5 linked regions of the Homo sapiens genome follow. The protein of the gene in region 3 purifies or fractionates together with the protein of the main gene of each other region. This does not show direct contact. Each region holds a gene or a part of one and is shown on either strand. Other genes may lie near its edges.

The links.
Region 1: the proteins of TINAGL1 (region 3) and SULF2 purify together in Homo sapiens (co-immunoprecipitation; one large-scale study listed by IntAct). This does not show direct contact.
Region 2: the proteins of TINAGL1 (region 3) and HSPG2 purify together in Homo sapiens (affinity purification with mass spectrometry; 3 studies listed by BioGRID and IntAct, with this or other methods). This does not show direct contact.
Region 4: the proteins of TINAGL1 (region 3) and AKIRIN2 purify together in Homo sapiens (co-immunoprecipitation; one large-scale study listed by IntAct). This does not show direct contact.
Region 5: the proteins of TINAGL1 (region 3) and LOXL2 purify together in Homo sapiens (affinity purification with mass spectrometry; 2 studies listed by BioGRID and IntAct, with this or other methods). This does not show direct contact.

Annotation. Positions count from the first base shown.
Region 1 is NC_000020.11:47,666,968-47,670,485, forward strand, and holds part of SULF2 (extracellular sulfatase Sulf-2 isoform a precursor), read right to left. Parts: intron 1-3,518. UniProt on the Homo sapiens protein: Exhibits arylsulfatase activity and highly specific endoglucosamine-6-sulfatase activity. It can remove sulfate from the C-6 position of glucosamine within specific subregions of intact heparin.
Region 2 is NC_000001.11:21,829,311-21,832,828, forward strand, and holds part of HSPG2 (basement membrane-specific heparan sulfate proteoglycan core protein isoform b precursor), read right to left. Parts: intron 3,297-3,518; coding exon 3,185-3,296; intron 2,487-3,184; coding exon 2,342-2,486; intron 2,253-2,341; coding exon 2,153-2,252; intron 2,015-2,152; coding exon 1,905-2,014; intron 1,781-1,904; coding exon 1,672-1,780; intron 782-1,671; coding exon 683-781; intron 295-682; coding exon 73-294; intron 1-72. UniProt on the Homo sapiens protein: Integral component of basement membranes. Component of the glomerular basement membrane (GBM), responsible for the fixed negative electrostatic membrane charge, and which provides a barrier which is both size- and charge-selective.
Region 3 is NC_000001.11:31,579,498-31,583,015, reverse strand, and holds part of TINAGL1 (tubulointerstitial nephritis antigen-like isoform 1 precursor), read right to left. Parts: intron 1-3,518. UniProt on the Homo sapiens protein: May be implicated in the adrenocortical zonation and in mechanisms for repressing the CYP11B1 gene expression in adrenocortical cells. This is a non catalytic peptidase C1 family protein.
Region 4 is NC_000006.12:87,681,734-87,685,251, forward strand, and holds part of AKIRIN2 (akirin-2), read right to left. Parts: intron 31-3,518; coding exon 1-30. UniProt on the Homo sapiens protein: Molecular adapter that acts as a bridge between a variety of multiprotein complexes, and which is involved in embryonic development, immunity, myogenesis and brain development.
Region 5 is NC_000008.11:23,296,381-23,299,760, forward strand, and holds the end of LOXL2 (lysyl oxidase homolog 2 precursor), read right to left. Parts: intron 2,568-3,380; coding exon 2,456-2,567; intron 1,743-2,455; coding exon 1,663-1,742; 3' UTR 517-1,662; downstream 1-516. UniProt on the Homo sapiens protein: Mediates the post-translational oxidative deamination of lysine residues on target proteins leading to the formation of deaminated lysine (allysine).

The sequences.
Region 1 (3,518 bases), on a different chromosome or scaffold from region 3:
CAGGGGCTGGGGGAGAGGGTAGTGAGGAGTGACTGCTTTGTGGGTACGGGGTTCCCTTTTGGGGTGATGAAATGTTTTGGAACTAGGTAGAGGTGTGCAACACTGTGAACCTATTAAATGCCTCTGCATTGTATATAATTGTAAAAATGGTGAGTTTGATGTTATCTGAACTTCACCTCAATTAAAAAGGAAAAAAAGTATCATGGATGTAAAAATGTTGATTTAAACTGGGAAAAAGGGGCCCTGCAGTGCCTGTCTCTGGGTAGAAATGGACGGGGACTGGGGAAGCCACTTAGCTTCTTTGAGTCCCAGAGAGCTGGAGGCTGCCCACCAGGTGGTAGGCAGGTGCTACACCCAGGTGGGCCGGCAACAAGGCTGAGGGGGGCTTTTGCATACGCCCTGACGCTGAAAACTCAGGGGTGCAGGCTGAAGTGACACCCCAGGTAGCCTGTATCTTCTATGTCTCAAAAACAAATCTGAGTTGGTAACATTAAAGAAAAAGGGGAGGTGGTGGCGGTGATGTAGGGATCCAGATTTCCAGCTTCCAGAAAGGAAACAGATGTCTCACGGGCCCACAGTTCCATATGGTCAGGACGGGCCGGGGATGGGCGGCCCCTTTGGCTGCCCACTGTCTTCCCTGTTGGCCACAGCCCCCGCCACTCCTTCCTGTTTTAAAACCTCTGCCCACCTGACACATGTCTGGCCCCAGCAGGCACGCACTGCAGTTGTCATCCTTCTCCAGATGTGCCTCATTTAAAGAGAAGGGCCTGGAGCCAGTTAGTGACCCAGGTTTTGTTGGATCCCAAGTGACCCCGAGATGGTGACCAAAGAGGACCAGCTGGAGGCAGGTGGTGGCGGAAGGCAGTGGAAGGAGGGAGGAAAGGGCTCCCTTCTCACGTGGCCCGGGTGCCACCCCCACTCTTGGGGGATGTTTTGTATCTTTCAGTTCTCAGACACCTTGCATCAGAGTCACAAGGGCCGAAGGATCCTGAGGGGCCGGGAAAGGCCTCCCCTCTCCAGCAGAGCCTTGGGCCTTTTCTGACACAGGGCAGCCTTCTCCTGGGCACTTCTCTCCCTCGGTTTAGTCTCCCGATGCAAGTACACAAATTGCCGAGGATGGTCCCTGTGCCAAGCAGGTCCTGCCCCGAGAGGCTCAGGAAATAGACCCAGCGTGTCCTCTCCACTCCTTTTGTCTCAGTCGGCTCATAAGTGAGCTGCTTTGCCTCTTTCCACCCTCCATCTCCCAGCTCTAGATTCAGGGGTCCCTAAACCATGGCCTAAGGGCCCAGGCCAGCCTCCATCTGTCTTTGTGAATACAGTTTCACTGGGTACAGCTGCTCGCATTCCCTTATACCTCTGCAGTCGCAGGGCTGAGTTGCAAAGCCCAAGACCTTTACTCTCTGGCTCTTCACAGAAGCGGTATGCCAGCCCTGTGTGAATCCTTTCCTGGACTGAAGCCACACTACCTGCTCTCCCCATCACTCTGTGTTCATGTCCAGAGTCCTGGAGGTACCCTTCCTGCCACACCAACAGGGAATGGGACAGGACTTCATAACCCGGCGGCCAAGAGCTTTGACTCTGCAATCAGATGGCTCAGGTGCAAACCCCTGAGCACATGTGTGGCCCCGGCGATTTGGGTAACTTCTCAGGATGGTGCCTACCCTACAAAGGCTCCTTGGAGGATGGCACGAAACGGAACTAGTGAAGCATTCATGCCTGATGAGCTGGTGTGGACCAGCTACTGCAGGGGGTGGGGACTCTGCCTGCAGCTGACGTCCTCACCTAAGGTGACAACCCTGGGCCCACTCCCTGCCTCTCCACGCCGGTGACCGCCTGTGTGATGTGGCTGCCCATGCCCATGGTGCTTCTCACCACCCTCGGCCACACCGGTCACCTCTCTGTGACTGGGACTCACCGCCCTGATTCTGAGCACAGGGTCTTTGTACTCCATCTTCCTCCTCCTCAGAACACTTGCTCTCTGGCTGGTCACAAGACCTGCTCCTTTCTGTACTTTGTTCTCATTAAATGTCCATTGAGCGCCATTCTGGAGCCGCCACCCCTCTCTGCTAGTCCCGCCACCGCTGCGTCTCCTTCATGCGTTTTTCACCAGCGGAAGTGGCCCTTTGTTCACTTGTTCACATCTTGTTTCATCCATGAGGTCCAAGTCCGTGTCTCTCCAGGTCAACTCTAATCTCAGTGTCTTGCACAAAGTTCAAGAAATGAATGAACCCCAGTCAGCTGGGCCCATCCCCCGAGTCCTCGTCCCCTTCTCCTGTTCCTGGGTCCCCCTTCTGCTGTGAGCTGGCTGGCTCTGCCTAACCTCCCCACGCCACAGCCAGGATCCCCGTGGATCAAGGTGGGCCAGGGCTTCCCAACCTTACCACTGCGGACACTTTGGGGTCAGATCAAACTCTGTGGTGGGGGCCGTCCTGTGCGTTGCAAGATGTTTTGCCGCATCCATAGCCTCTGCTCACTAGACGCCAGCAGCACCCCTCCATCACACACAATTGTGACAGCCAAAACTGTCTCCAAACATTGCCAAGTGTCCCCTGGGGGACAGAAAGCCCCCAGTTCAGCCTGCTCTAGGCTGACTGCTCAGAAAAGAGGGACAGAGTGTCTTGTCGGAGACTCTAGCAGGGGGAAGAATGCCAGGCAGGAGATGGGGCTGGAGTCCCCAAATCAGCCACGTGACCCAGTCTTTCCTGTCCATCATCCCCTGATGATCACCCCTGCCCTGCTCACAGGGCTGTTGAGAGGTGCAGGTCCCGGCTCTGACATTACACTCACATGAGGATTCTGACCAGGGCTGAGCTGACTCTCAGCTACTTTTAGGTATTTTTCTTTCCTCTAAGCATTAATAAGGGGAAAAGAGCTGAATTTCTCCCTGCCAGATCTTGTATTATTTAAAGATTATCGACTGTGCCACATATTGAAGCAAGGAGATGCTGGCTGTGTAATCCAATCTGGAAACCAATCATTCTGTTCAGCTAGAAAAGTTAATGTAGTAGTTCCTAATCAGCTGGTGAGGAAATGTAACGGAGGGTCATCAGCTGGGAAACGGTGTTTCAGGCAGTGGCTGGGCTGTTATGGAGAGAGACTTATCTGCTCCACGATGAAGACATTTGCTGCCTGGCTGGCTGGACCAGAGGAGATCACTGCGCCTGCCGTCAGAGACCTCAATCTCTAACTAGTCTGTGGTACAATATCATCCGTCTTATAAAGAATGGAGACTTTTTGTTTTTTTTGAGACAGTCTTGCTCTGTCACCCAGGCTGGAGTGAAGTGGCATGATCTCAGTTCACTGCAACCTCCCGCTCCCAGGTTCAAGCCATTCTAGTGCCTCAGCCTCCTGAGTAGCAGGGACTACAGGCGCCCACCACCATGCCTGGCTAATTTTTGTATTTTTAGTAGACACGGGTTTCACCTTGTTGGCCAGACTGGTCTCGAACTTCTGAGCTCAGGCAATCCGCCTGCCTTGGCCTCCCGAAATGCTGGGATTACAGGCGTGAGCCACTGTGC
Region 2 (3,518 bases), 9.8 Mb from region 3:
CTGGGGCTTGAAGAGCCGAGGGGGGCACAAGGCTTGGTGTGCAGAGCCCCGCATTTGGTGCTGGGTGCTTACCTGACCCCAACTCATAGCGGAACTCCAGGTGGCCGCCCACCATCGCCAGGGACACGAAGTCCTCCACAGGCCCGCTCTTCCCCCCGCTGAACAGCAGGACCCCGTCAGGGGCGAGTGGCTTGAACTCCACGTCCAGGCGTAGCTCGTGGTGTGTGTTGGTGAGGGCGGGCAGTGCCAGGTAGGAGCCAGCACCCGACAGCGAGGGGGTGGTCACTGTCACACCTGCAGCAGCCACAGCTCAGCTGAGGCAGTGGGGATCCTGGACCCTCGGGTGGGGTCCAGCTACTCTGCCTTCCTCTGGGACCCTTGCCTGCCTCACTCTCCAGGCCCAGAGGCTCAGGACCAGTTGGCACCAGCTGCAGTGGCACAGGAGCCCCCCTGCCCTTGCACACGGGGCTGGGAGGAGCTCCAATATGACAGGGGTCCTCTTTGGGGGCCCTCACTCAATAAGGGGCTCAGGCTGGGCAGACATGTGGCCAGGTGACTTCGAGATCCTCTGGCTTGGGAATCGTTTTATCATCCGTAGGGCCCATCATGGCCTCAGAGTGCCCCACCCAGCCTCCCCAGCTGACACTAGGACCCTGGGGGTCTCAGGCCTGGCTCCCCTCACCTTCCTCACACCGCAACCCCGAGCGGCCCAGGTGGCAGCGGCAGGTGTAGCCTCGACCGTCAGGCCGGTTCACACAGGTGGCGTCGGGCCCACAGGCCTCTGGGGGGCACATAGGCCAGTGAAAAGACACGGAGGTGACTCTGGAGGGAGGGGGGTCCTGATGCCAGAGGTCTGCCCATCACACCCCGGGGGGCTGGGCTAGTGAGGGCCAGGCCAGCCTCCTGGGAGGCCTTGGAGGAGGGAACTGAGCAGAGCAAGGCGGGAGCCAGAAGAGGCCACAGGGAGGACTGCAGGGGAAGCAGTCGAGGGACTCTGTGTGTCTGCAGGTTCTTCAGAGACTGGACAGTGTTGGAGGGGGAGCACCTGGTGGCGGGTAATGGGGTGGGCACCTGGGTAATAAGATGGGACTGGGGGCCGGGCGTGGGGGCTCATGCCTGTAATCCCAGCACTTTGGGAGGCCGAGGTGGGTGGATCACCTGAGGTCAGGAGTTCAAGACCAGCCATGGCCAACGTAGTGAAACCCCGCCTCTACTAAAAATGCAAAAAATTTAGCCAGGGGTGGTGGCAGACACTTGTATTCCCAGCTACTCAGGAGGCTGAGGCAGGAGAATCGCTTGAACCCGGGAGGTGGAAGTTGCAGTGAGCTGAGATCGTGCCACTGCACTCCAGCCTGGGCAACAAGAGCGAAACTTCGTCTCAAAAAAAAAAAAAAAAAAAAAAGATGGGCTGGGGGTGGGGGAGTGCCTGGGTGGCGGGGTAGTGGTAAGAATTTGGTCAGCAGGGCTGGAGGAGGGGAAGCAGCAGTGATGGGGTGAGGGCCTTCGGGTAGCAGAGATGGGGGATGGGTACATGGGAGGAGTGGAGAGTGCTCAGGTGAGAGTGGGGGGTGTGGAAGTGCCCCAGTGGTTGAGATGGTGGTGGATATGGGGAGGCAGCAAAGGGAAGAGGCAGGCCCTGGGGCGACAGCGACTGGCGGTCGGGGTGCGTACCTGGATGGCAGTGCAGGGCCTGCGAGTGCTCACAGCGGCTCCCGGTGAAGCCAGCTGGGCAGACGCACACGTAGCTGCTGCTCTCAGAGTCATGGCACTGACCGCCATTCTGCAAAGCAGCCCCCAGAAGTAAGGCCGAGAACATTCAGTACCCCCCATAATCCCCACAGGGGCCAGCCATGGCTAGGGGTGGAGGCCACGGCAGCCAGGTGGTGTGTGGGGTGTGGGGTCACCTGGCAGGGCCGGTCCCGACAGGTGGGGCAGTGGGAGATGCCGTGCGCCGTGAGGTTGAGGTCATGGAAGACGATCTCCTCGCCCTGGATGCGCAGCTCCCGGACACAGCCTGGGAGGTGAGTGGGCAGGATGAGCACAGGGCAGGGTGTCCCAGCCCATACCCTGAGGTGCCCTCCCAGGCTCTCCAGGGCTCTTCCAGCCAGCCAGGTAAGGCCCAGCCTCAGCTGGAGGTGGGGAGGGGGCTCACCTATGAAGCCGCTGCTCAGCCCCGCCTTGGGGATGGCACCATAGTCAGGATAGCCACCCAGGTAGAGTTCCTCGTTCAGATCCAGGCCCTGGAACTTGCCCTGGGGAGGTGGGGAAGTCAGGAATGGCAACAGAGGCTGGGCAAGGGCGGGATGAGGGCTGGAAGTAGCAGTATGGGGTTGGGTCTCACCTGGGAGGTCCCATTGACCGGGGCCAGGTCACCCACAATCAGGGAGCCCTGGGTGAGGCTGCGCAGCAGGGTCACGGTGTGGAAATGGCCCAGGGCCAGTGGTGTGGGATGGCGGATGGTGGCCATGCCTGAGCCTGCATCGAACCTGCTCCGTGGGGCAGGCCGGGGCAGGAGAGAGTGGATAGGGGGTTTGTAAGAAGGGCTAGGGGCCCAGTTGGGTAGAGGGGTCCCAGAGGAGGGATGTCACCACTTCCTGCAGTCCCAGCCCTGGGGCTGTTCCCGTTCCTGTCCCTGTCTTGTCGTCCCTCCCCGTGACCCATCCCCTGGATCTTCTCTCCCCACATCCTTTTGCTGGGAGCTTTCCCAGAGCAGCCCACAGGGACCCCAGGCTCAGCGCCCTGCAGCCTAGCACCTGGCCTCCTTGTTCCTCTGAGGACTCCTCTCTCCCTGTGATCACCTTGTTTCTCTGTTTATGGCTTGTTTATTCTTCCCCAGTGAGAATACACCTCTTCCCACAAGAGCCAGAATTTGGTCTGTTTTGTTTTACCTGTATCAGTGCCTGGCACACATGGGGTGGTCAGCAAATAACTGATGCATGCATGCATGAATGAATGAATGAATGAATGAATCCTGGCCTGCAGCAGTCCCAAGTCTGAGGTTGCACCCTCCTCCACCTGACTGGCATACTATTCCTACTCTAGCAGATTGGGTGGTCACCAAGGGTAACGGCCACATTTTCTCCTTCCTCCAGATCTCCTTTGTATAATGGAGCCCAGGGTAGCACTTGCCAGACCAAAGCCCTGTGTCCAGTCCCCCTGTAGGTGGGGAGGCTGGGGGTCTCACCGGAACTCGGGCCTTCCCCCCACGAGGCCGAAGGAGATGAAGTCGGGCTGCCGGTTGGCCAGGTTGGTGGGGCTCCCTGGGACTCGCTTCTGCCCATTGTACAGCAGCATCCCTGGGTGGGCACCACTGTGTAAGGGGCCCCCTTCCAGCCACAGGCTCCCTGTCCTCCCCCACCCTAGAAACCACCCAAGCTCTTGAGCCTGTCCACTCTCGGAACCTGTCCCTCCCTCTGGCACTCCTCACACAGCCAGGGCCTTCTCACTATCTCAGGGCTGGTGCCCCAAACGCAAGGGCCTTACTGAGCGCCCCTAGAAAGAAACTGAATTTGCTTCAC
Region 3 (3,518 bases):
CAGCCTGGTGGCTTTAAATGTCAACGTCTAGTTCATGATTCTCAAGTTTATATCTGTGGCCCAGATCTCTGCCTGAACACCAGAGTCAAGGATCTCACGGCTACTCAACATCACTACCCTGAACCAAAACACTCCCTGAACCGAATTCCTGACCCCCCTCACTTATTCCCCCTACAGTTCTCAGAAAACGGCAACTCTATCCTTCCTGGAGTTTGGGCCCCAAACCTGGCAGTCCCCGCTGACTTCCTTTCCCATGCTGATCCAGTTCATCCGCATATCCTATGGGTCTACCTTAAAAATGCATCCAGAATCCGAACCACTCTCATTCTCTCCTGCAGCCCGCCCAAGTCCGATCACCTCTCACCTGGATTCCTGCTGTGGCCTCCTCACTGTGGGTGCTCCATGCATCTGCCCCTTGCCCTGCTTCCCAGGGTATTTTTAACACAGCTGCCAGAGTGACCCTGCTAAACCTAAGTCATATCATGTCGTTCCTCTGCCCAAAACCCTCCACTGGCTTCACATCACAGAATAAGAGCCAAAGTTTGGTGACAACAAGGCCCTGCACGCTCTGTCCTCCTGTCCCCTGATCCCCTCCTCCTTCAAGTTCTGGTTCTAAGGCTCCAACTAGGCTGGCCCCTGATGGTTCACACCAATCTGCCTGCTCCCCTTCCTCCCCGCTTTTTTTTTTGAGACAGGGTCTTGCTCTGTTGCCCAGGCTGGAATGCAGTGGTGTGATCTCGGCTCACTGCAGTCTCTGCTTCCCAGGCTCAAGTGGCCCTCCCACCTCAGCCTCCTAAATAGCTGAGACTACAAGTGCACCACCACACCCAGCTAAATTTTGCAATTTTTGTAGAGATGGGGTTTTGCTATGTTGCCCAGGCTGGTCTCAAATTCCTGGCCTCAAGTGATCCACCCGCCTTGGCCTTCCAAAGTGCTGAGATTTACAGGTGTGAGCCACAGGCCCGGCCTGTTTATATTGCTTATCCCTGTTTCCTCATAGGCTGTAAATTCCTTGAGGGCAGGTATTGTTTGGTATTTTCAGCGCCTAGGAAAACAAAGCCTAGCACATAGTAAGCACCCAATGAATATTTGTTAACTGAGTCAATGACTGAGGCCATATGCTGAATTGACTAAGAGCATGGGTTCTGGAATTCAGATTCTGGGTTTCAGCCCACTGGCTGTGTGATCTTAGGAGAATCATTCAAGCTCTGTCTCTCTCAATGCCCTTGTCTATAAAATGAGGATAATACAGTGGTACCACTTTCCAGGGATTTAATGATAGGCTTGTAAAGCATTTAGCACTGGGCCTGGTCCATCATTAAGTGCTCAGAATTAATATCTACTATCACCATTCTGTTACAGGAATCCCAGACCCCACTTCTCTAGAGCTTCAGACTCATATCCCACTGACCTTCTGACATCTCTGGATGTGCAAAAGGCATCTCAAACTCAAAATAGCCCGTCTGCCTCCCACAAGCCTGCTCTTTCCTAACATCTTCAACTCTGAAAATGGCACCCAGTTGTTCACATCAGAGCTCCAGGTGGTCTGTGGTGTCCGCCCACATGTCCCCCATCAGCAGGGCTTGGAGATGGCACATGAGGAATCCACCTACCTCTCGCCCCTCCACTGTGGCCACCCTACTCCCGTCCCTCATCACCTCTCACCTGGACCCCGGCACTGCCTTATTCACCAAGTCTGCTACCCCTTAAAATTCCCGGCCATCCCCTCCCTACCCACCCCAAAGCCAGAGAGATCTTTGAAGAACGTAAATCAGACCGTGTGCTCTCTACGTGGCTTCCTGTGACTCCAAACAAAATGCAGAATCCTGGGCACAGCTGATGTGAGCCACGGAACGTGGCCTGCACCTCCTTGGGACGTCTCTCCCCTACCCCAGCTCCAGCTAAAATGAGCTCAGTCACCTCCCGGCCTTCCCACGAGCCACTCCCTCTGCCTAGGCCAGGCCTCTCCTATCCTTCTCCCTGGTCTCAGCATAAATGTCCCTTCCTCAGAGTAGCTTTCCCACCCACTCCCTACTCTAAACTGGGACCCCCGTTATCCTCTCTTTTCCCTATAACACTGGGCAGCTTGTCAGAATATACTCATTTGTTGTCTTCCCATGCCCTTCACCTTACACTAGAAATGGGACAAGGACTGTGTCTGTTGCATTCCCGCTCCATCTCCTGAGCTCAGCATAGTGCCTGTCACGCAGTAGGTCTTTAATAATAGGTGCCGACTGAAGGGCTGCATTCTATGAATTCTATAATGCTTTTACAAGCTCATAACTCTGTTATTACAAGATGCTGAACTGCCTCCTTGCAAGCTGTCCAAGGCTCCCACCTCCAATGTTGCCTTTTAAGGAGCCTCAAGGGGAGCCAAGACCCAGTATGGCTGGGCTTTCCAGCCCCAGGAGAGGCGGGGGCACTGCTGGGGAGGGCCAGAGGAGTCTGCAGGGCCGGGAAGGCTTTCCTCATCCTTCCTTTCCCTCTCTGCACACCAGGCTGTTCCCCCTCTGCACACCTAGGCAGCAGCACCCGACTAGACTCTGGAAGCATCCTTTGAGGGCTCTGACACCCTGGACACTCCCCCACCCTCGCCCCCAGAGCCTTCATGAGGAGAGGGCAGTAGACTGTTCTGTCCTTTCCTGCCATCTCCTCCTTTGCCCCCAGGGCTGCCCACACAGGTCCAGGCAGGGCCGGTGGTAGCAGGTCCCAGCATTCCAGAGGGGGCCTAAGGGGCCAGGGACAGCAGTGAGAGAGAGAGAGACAGAGAGAGAGAGACAGAGAGAGACAGAGAGAGAGAGACAGAGAGAGAGAGAGAGAGAGAGAGAGAGAGAGAGAGAGAGAGAGAGAGAGCGCATTAACCCCTCAACGTCCAGAGCCATCCTATCAGAACCTGCAGACGCGGGCCAGGCATGTTTTATCCTTTTGAACACACACACACACACACACACAGTGCACACACAGTCACGCTGAACACCCAGACACATGCTGAAACGTTCCCTCCCTCACTGTGACCCGGGCACCCCTCACCCTAGTGAGGCAATGGAAATATCTTATGCGCAATGCATTCCAAAAAGTTTCCTTCTCTCTGGGGCCTCTTAGTCCCAGGCAAAGAGGGAGTGGGGGTGGAGTGGGTGCAGGGCCGCCTCCTCCAAGTCGCAGGCTCCCCATTATTTCTATTAAGGCTTTCAGGGTTTCCTACCTGGCCCTTCTCCACTTCCCATCTCAGACTGAATAGGGGGGTACCCATGACCCCTTCCTCCTCCTACTGGGAATGGTGGGGAGGGGTGGGGAAGGAAAAAGGGGCCACATTTCAGGGAAGGCCCTGCTAGAGGCTGGCTGGCCGCCCGCTCAGCCATCCCTGACCCTCATCCGCTCAGGGCAGCGGATGCTGCAGTCAGAGCTTTCCTTCCTGGCGCCCCCTTCTCCCTCTGACTCTGCAGTGACAGCAGGAATAGCTGGGAGGAATAGCCCAGCCCAAGCCAGGAGGGGTGGGGAAGGATCTCAGTTCAAGGGTG
Region 4 (3,518 bases), on a different chromosome or scaffold from region 3:
ACTCTTGTTTTATGTTGTACAGAATTTGTTCTAAAATAAAAAAGTTAAAATTTGGCAAGATAAAAACTTTCACATTAAAAAAGAGGTTGGCTTTCCAACATTATTTAGTAGACCAATCTACCCAAAATACTCCTTTCAAATAATATCCAGAAAACTGACATTTTGGTAGGAACTCATTTCAGCATAAATGGGGACATTCACTTAGCACATACACACCAACTGGAATTCAGCTGTTCAACAATATTCTTGCTGAGCACTGACTAGCAAAAATAAAGTTTTTCAGTCAAAATAATGGTCAAGGAGTCTGTGAACCAAAACACCTATTTTACTCAGATTCTTAAGAGTTCCAAACTTAAAGCTCATTTATTCATCACATAGAACTATTACACTAACAGGCTTTTCCAACTGCCTTTACTGCCTTTATGCCTTTTCCAAGCCCATAAATAAGAAGGGGCTTGGGAGATTATGTATATTCAAGCACACAACAGTCTGAAGTGATAATAGGTCAACAAAATGACAAAGTAGATGGGAACTTAAAAAGTCATCATACATTAAATGGCCATGGCCAATTATTTTAAGCTCAATAAAACCTAAGAATACTACAGCATTCTGAATCTTGGGGCTGGAGGGTAGGGTGAGGGGGAGACCATGTAAAGTGATTGGTACATGACAGGTCCTCAATAAATAAGAACCACTATACCACAGTGCAATTATCTTGAACCACAATCACACAAATGAGTAAAATTATATCTGGCACATCCTTTAGGCCACTATGATTCATTTCAGAAAGATTTCTAACTCAAAATAATTACCATCTGGCCCCTCCAGAAAATCCCTGCCTAGGGGTTTCCACTCCCCTTCCAGACTTCCTCACTACACCTCCATACTCCATAGCTCCCAAGTTAACAGGTTATCAATGTGAAACTACATCCCTAGAAGTTTACTAACCAAAATCCAAAGCAAGATTAAACAAAAATGAAATTTTTAGGTGGCAATAAAAAGACTGATAGAGTGGAGTGTAGCCTTAACATTCAATTCTACAATGATGCATTAATTTAAGAACTGTTAGATATTGGTCAAGTGTGGTGGCTCAACACCTGTAACCCTGGCACTTTGGGAGGTCAAGGTGGGAGGATCACTAGAGGCCAAGAGTTCGAGACCAGCCTGGGCAACATAGAGGGACCGTGTCTTTATGACACACAAAAAAGAAAGCTAAAGATTTACATACAATAATTCTTTTTAAAATTTAATACTGGTGGTTTTCGTAGATAACCACCATATCTACAAAATCCTGTCACTTATTTTCTCACTTTATTTCCCTAGGAGAAGAACTTTTAGAATTTTTGAGAGACTCTGGGAGGACAAATAAGTTCCTTAAACATTTTAGATACTGCCTGTTTCATTATTTAAACTGAAAAAAAAGTGGCAAGACATATCCAGTTAAAGATACCATTTACATAAATTTTGTTGTATAAAAAGACCTGTTTATACATACACGAATGTGCAGTTTAAGTACAAAATCACTCATTCATGTGTACATAAACAGGTCTATAATGATTAATTTCAGGATGGTTATGTCGGGGTGCTTTAGCTGTATTTAACATTTTTCATTTGTTAACATTTGTTTAATACGGGTTATGCTCATTTTCAGTTCTTTTCCATTTATTTGAACTACTTTGTAATTTGAAAACAAAGTTACTCCAATCGAGTGACAGTCGTTAAATTATTAAATTATCAGTGTTGGCATGAAACAGTTGTCTACTGAATGGTAAGCATACCTTGATATAAATGGGTTTCCTAATATTCACCAGAGGTACCCAATAAAACTAATGTAACATCCAGTATCAACCAGGATAAACACAAATATCCTCATTTTTTAATAACAGACCTCTTTTCAGTAACAACAATCTAAAGGGTTTTTCTTTTCTTTTCTTTTTTGAGATGGAGTCTTGCTCTGTCACCCAGACTGGAGTGCAGTGGCGTGATCTCAGCTCACTGCAACCTCCATCTCCCAGGTTCAAGCAATTCTCCTGCGTCAGCCTCCCAAGTAGCTGGGACTATAGGCTCGAGCCACCATGCCCAGCTAAATTGTATTTTTGGTAGAGACAGGGTTTCACCACATTGGTCAGGCCGGTCTCGAACTCTTGACCTCAGGTGTTCCACCCTCCTCGGTCTCCCAAAGTGCTAGGATTATAAGTGTGAGCCACCGTGCCCAGCCATTCTATTTTGCTGAGAGAGAGTAAGCTTCACTCATATTCATCACTTTCTGTCCAAAGCTACCATTATCCTGATCAAAAGTGCCATTCAAAACATCATAAAATTTATTTATAACCAGAGATGTTAAGAGGTACTAGTTTGGAGTAACTTGACCTTAATATTTATCTTTTGTGTGACTTATATACGTTCTTTTATCACCACATAGCTGTTCTCAGATTTAGTCTTACTTCTGCTTCACAAGTCAACCAAAGCACAACTAAAATGTACCAAAAGAATGCTTGTATAATAACAACCTCAATTTGTTCATTTGATAATCTCAAATGAAAGCTAACCCAGAATTAAGAAACGGTAAAACTTTTAAAAATTTTATCTTTGTAAAACTCCATACCATCAGATACTTAGGGACATCACTAACAATTTTAAGGTATAATTTACAAATGACAAAATTCACCAATTTAAATGTACAATCCATTTGAGTTCTGACAAGTACATACATACAGTTTTGGAACTAACGTAACTATGATAAATAACTTTTTATCACTCCAAAAACTTCTCTTGGGCTTCTCTGCAGTTAATTCACTACCAATATCACCACTCCCCCATACAGTCCACCAACACTCATCTGCTATTACTACATAGTTTTGCCTTCTCTAGAATTTCACATAAATAGAATCATAAAGAGTGTAGACTTTTATGTCTGAACTACTTTCACTCAGCAAAATGCTTTTGAGATTCATGTATGTTGCATGAATCAGAAATTCCTTTTTATTGGTGAGTATTCCATCATATGTATGTATATATACACACACAGCTAGCCTTTCTCCTGTTAATGGACATTTAGGCTGTTTCCAATTTGGGACTATTACGAATATTCAAGTACCAGTCTTTGGTGGACATGTTTTCATTTCTCTTGGATAAATACCTAGGAGTGGGAATGGGCTGCCTAATCATATGGCAAATGAAGGGTTTATTTTGTTCTTACAAAATAAAATTGCTAAACCATTTTCCAGAGTGATTTTGTCATTTTGCATTCCTACCATAAAAGTATTACAGCTCCAGCTGTTCCACATCCTTGCCAACACTTGATATTGTCAGCTAAAGAGCTGAAGAATTTTTAATACTATTGCCTGCATTGCTTTTTACATCTAATATGATGCAACTATGTCATCTAAGCCACACTGTGCCCTCAAATGCTCTAATACTGGTAACATGTGATCAACAATGTTATGCAGTGAAGGGTCCAATTTAACTTGGCCAAGATCTCAACTGCACAAGTAGCAAACAGCTAACTGCAATGGCCT
Region 5 (3,380 bases), on a different chromosome or scaffold from region 3:
AGGATCCCCACTGGGCCTGCAGGGCCTCTGTGCACAGCCTGCCCAATTTTGGGAGCTGGGTTGCACCTGCTGTGTAGCACCTGCCCACACTCCTTTGGCAGTTCAGGTATCCAGCCTTCTGGCCTGTGCTGTGGGACAGTTCTGGGACCCCTGGGCTGGTCCTGGTCTTACCTGTCAGTCAGTGCCAGTTCCTGCAAAATAAATGTAAACAAAGGCAAGAGGTGAGATCTGAATGCGTGCCGACGCCCTCATTCAATTGTGGTTTGAGTGGAGTTGGTGCCAAGGTGGTCCTACCTACCCTCTAGTTTGCTGGGCCCTAGCATGCTGTTGACACAAGGGGAAGTCCCCTGTGTCTGGGTGAGTCGCATGGGCCAGCCACCCCCCCACTGCCACTGGGAATTGCTGGGAGCCCCTGTCCTGTGAACGGATGCCCTCTTGCTTTGATAAGCTGCCTGGTGGCTGTTGTTTAAATCTAGACTTCCCATCCAGCCCTCGCACAACTCCTATGCCTTCTGACAAGTTTCAGTAAAAACCACAGGAGTTCAAGAAAGATTATGACTCCTGTTCCGTTACTTTTTGTGATCTCCTTAGATTGCTTCTCCCAGATGGTAGGAGCTGCCCCTTTTGGAGTCTATTGAAGGAGGTGCCCTGGTGGCCACACTGGGCTGGAGGGGATCTGAGGACCCATGTCCACCGGAGAAAACCACGAATGTACCTGAAGCTCTGCTTCTGGCCACTGAACATAGGAAGCCTGCTGCTCAGGGCCCAGGTGCTGTGGGTCAAAGGAAACACAGACACGTTTCATAAATCTTTCTTTTATTCCAAGTTTCAAGTATGTGTAAGTGTCTGTGATGACACATGGTGCTCAGTGAGCGCCCTGTCACCCAGGACCCTGGTTATAGCACCGTTGAATCAAAAACCCACAGAATTGGAACAACAGGAAGATGAGTCACTTACACAGTGGGTTGGTTTTTCCTTAGATTTGTACTTCCAAGGGCCCAGATGTCCAATATTAAATGCCAATAAATTTGTGCTTCAAAAGTCTGTGAAAATATAATAATAGTATCTTGAAAAACAAGGGGTGGGGGCTGTGGATAGGGAAGCACCAAGTCTGAGCTCACCAAATCAGAAAACACGTGGCACCATTATCTATGTGACTATAATAGACTGGAGGGTTTCATTGGAAGAGAGGTCTAGATATTCAAGTTTGCTGAAAATGACCTAAGAGGAGGAGAAATGGGGTTCGGCCTGACCCTCTCTGGGGGGGCTGATGAGCCCGCATTTGTCCACGTGTCACTGGAGAAGAGCGCGGCTCCACTGTGTCTGTGGTGAGCTCGGTGGCTTGAATGGGACAAGCTGATGACAACCTGTCTGTGGGCCTCATCCCGGTCAAGACTGGCTCTTGGTGCTGCTCCAGCAGCTCTGTGGACAAACCCCACCCCCGCAAGGCCTTCTCAGGCCCCAAGGGTCAGGTAGCAGCCCCCCATGAATGATGGGAGGGTCCCTTTCCTCCTGAGCTTAGACACAGCTGTAGGGGTCTGGACAGGGTGGGGGCCGGGCTGGGTGAGGGCACGTGGCATTCGTTCAGACTCAGTTGTTGGGGGGAAGTCCCATGGAAGATGTGGTGTGGCCTGAAGACAGGAGTTGACCACGCAGGCTTCTTTACTGCGGGGACAGCTGGTTGTTTAAGAGCCCGCTGAAGTGCTCAAACTTTTTTTCCGTCTCTTCGCTGAAGGAACCACCTGAAGAGCGAGAATCGGGTAGAGAGAGTGGACAAATGAGATGCTCGGGCCTTGCCTGACCCTGAGCCAGGGGAGTGGGCCTCAGGGGCTGCTGGGGCCACCTGTGTGTGCCCTCCTCAAAAGGACAGGTGCCAGGCACTGGCCATCTCTAGGGCTGGGCACATAGCAGGTGCTCTGTCAAAGTTGAGTGAACGAGTGAATAAATATAGCGCCTTTAATTTTAACCTTTTGCCAAGAGTGAGGCCCATGACTTTTCCTGCAGAGGAAAAAGCTCTGCCTTCCCTTTTGTTCCCCAAGTCCTATCATCCAAGGAAAAAAGTGTCTTTATTGGAGACTAGAAATAACAGTAGTTTGCTAGCTTCCAGCTCTCGACAGAAAAACCTGATAGGCAGAGCCCACAGATTGCTGATGCCCACATTTTTGAGGTCACATACATAATGAGCCAGTGGCCTCAGCTCCAACCCTTAAAAAGCCTTGGGGTCTGCACTGGGCTGGCCTGGTCCTGTACCATCCTCTATCCGTGGCCGGAGCTGGCTGTAAAAACTCAGTCTCCATCCAGGCCTGTGTGTCTGTGGCTTCTGTCCTGAATGTGGAAATGTGATGCTGGCTGCATTCCCCGAGCTCTTTACCCAAATTAGGAAGCTGCCTCTGGGTCCTTGAGAAAGTAGGGCAGCTCCCGCCTGCTTCCTGGAGTGGGGGCGGCCTGGCCTTACCTATGTGGCAGTTGTACATCCAGATGCGGTGGCCGTCATAGCGGCTCCTGCATTTCATGATGTTGTTGGAGTAATCGGATTCTGCAACCTCGAAGTTGGGGTTAATAACAACCTAGGGAGAAGCAGGGCAGAGGAGGCTGCTTGTTCCCTCTGCGGCCACCTCCACCCAGGCCTGGGGCTCTGAGAGACCAGCACCTCAGGGAAGGGGAGCGTGGCAGGTGCCGGGACCCAAGACGGGGGTCTGTGGGTCTCAACAAAGTCCTTGGGGAGGGGAAGAGATGAGTCAGGGAGCAGAGGAAGCATGGCCTGGAAGAGGGAAACCCTGCCCTCTGTCCATATCCGTGTAACACACACCCCTCTACCCAGGGTGGGCCTTCGGAAGGGGGTCACCCACTCCTGGGAGTTCTGGGGAAGGCAGAAGTTGGGGTCTGGGGAGGCCCCAAAAAGAAGATGCTGAAGAGAAGCAGAAGGGTGCAGGGAGGACCTGGCGGTGTGGGAACCTGGAAGAGGGCTGCCTGGGCGTTGGAGATGGGACACTCGTCACAGGCGTGTGACTGTGGACATGTCCCTTCCTCTCTCTGTAAAGTGACAGGTGGGACTTGGGGATCCATGTCCCTGTCTGCTCTGCTGGCCGAGGGCCTGGCTCTGGGGCTGCTGGAGAAGTTGCACCCTCTCCCCATCCTTCCACCCACCCCTGTATCCGCATCCCCCCAGCTACAGCAGGAATAGGAAGGACATATTCTGGGAGAGTGTCTGTGAGGGAACAGAAAAGGGGAGGTTTACGGTGAGGACCCGAGGAGAAAAGAGAAAGGGAGGGAGAGGGAGAAGAGACAACAGTGGTGAACAGAGGGGCAGAGGACACAGATGACAGGCCTTCCCTCGAGGGTCCTGCCACATTTGGAAGGGCTGCGACCCACAGCAGGGG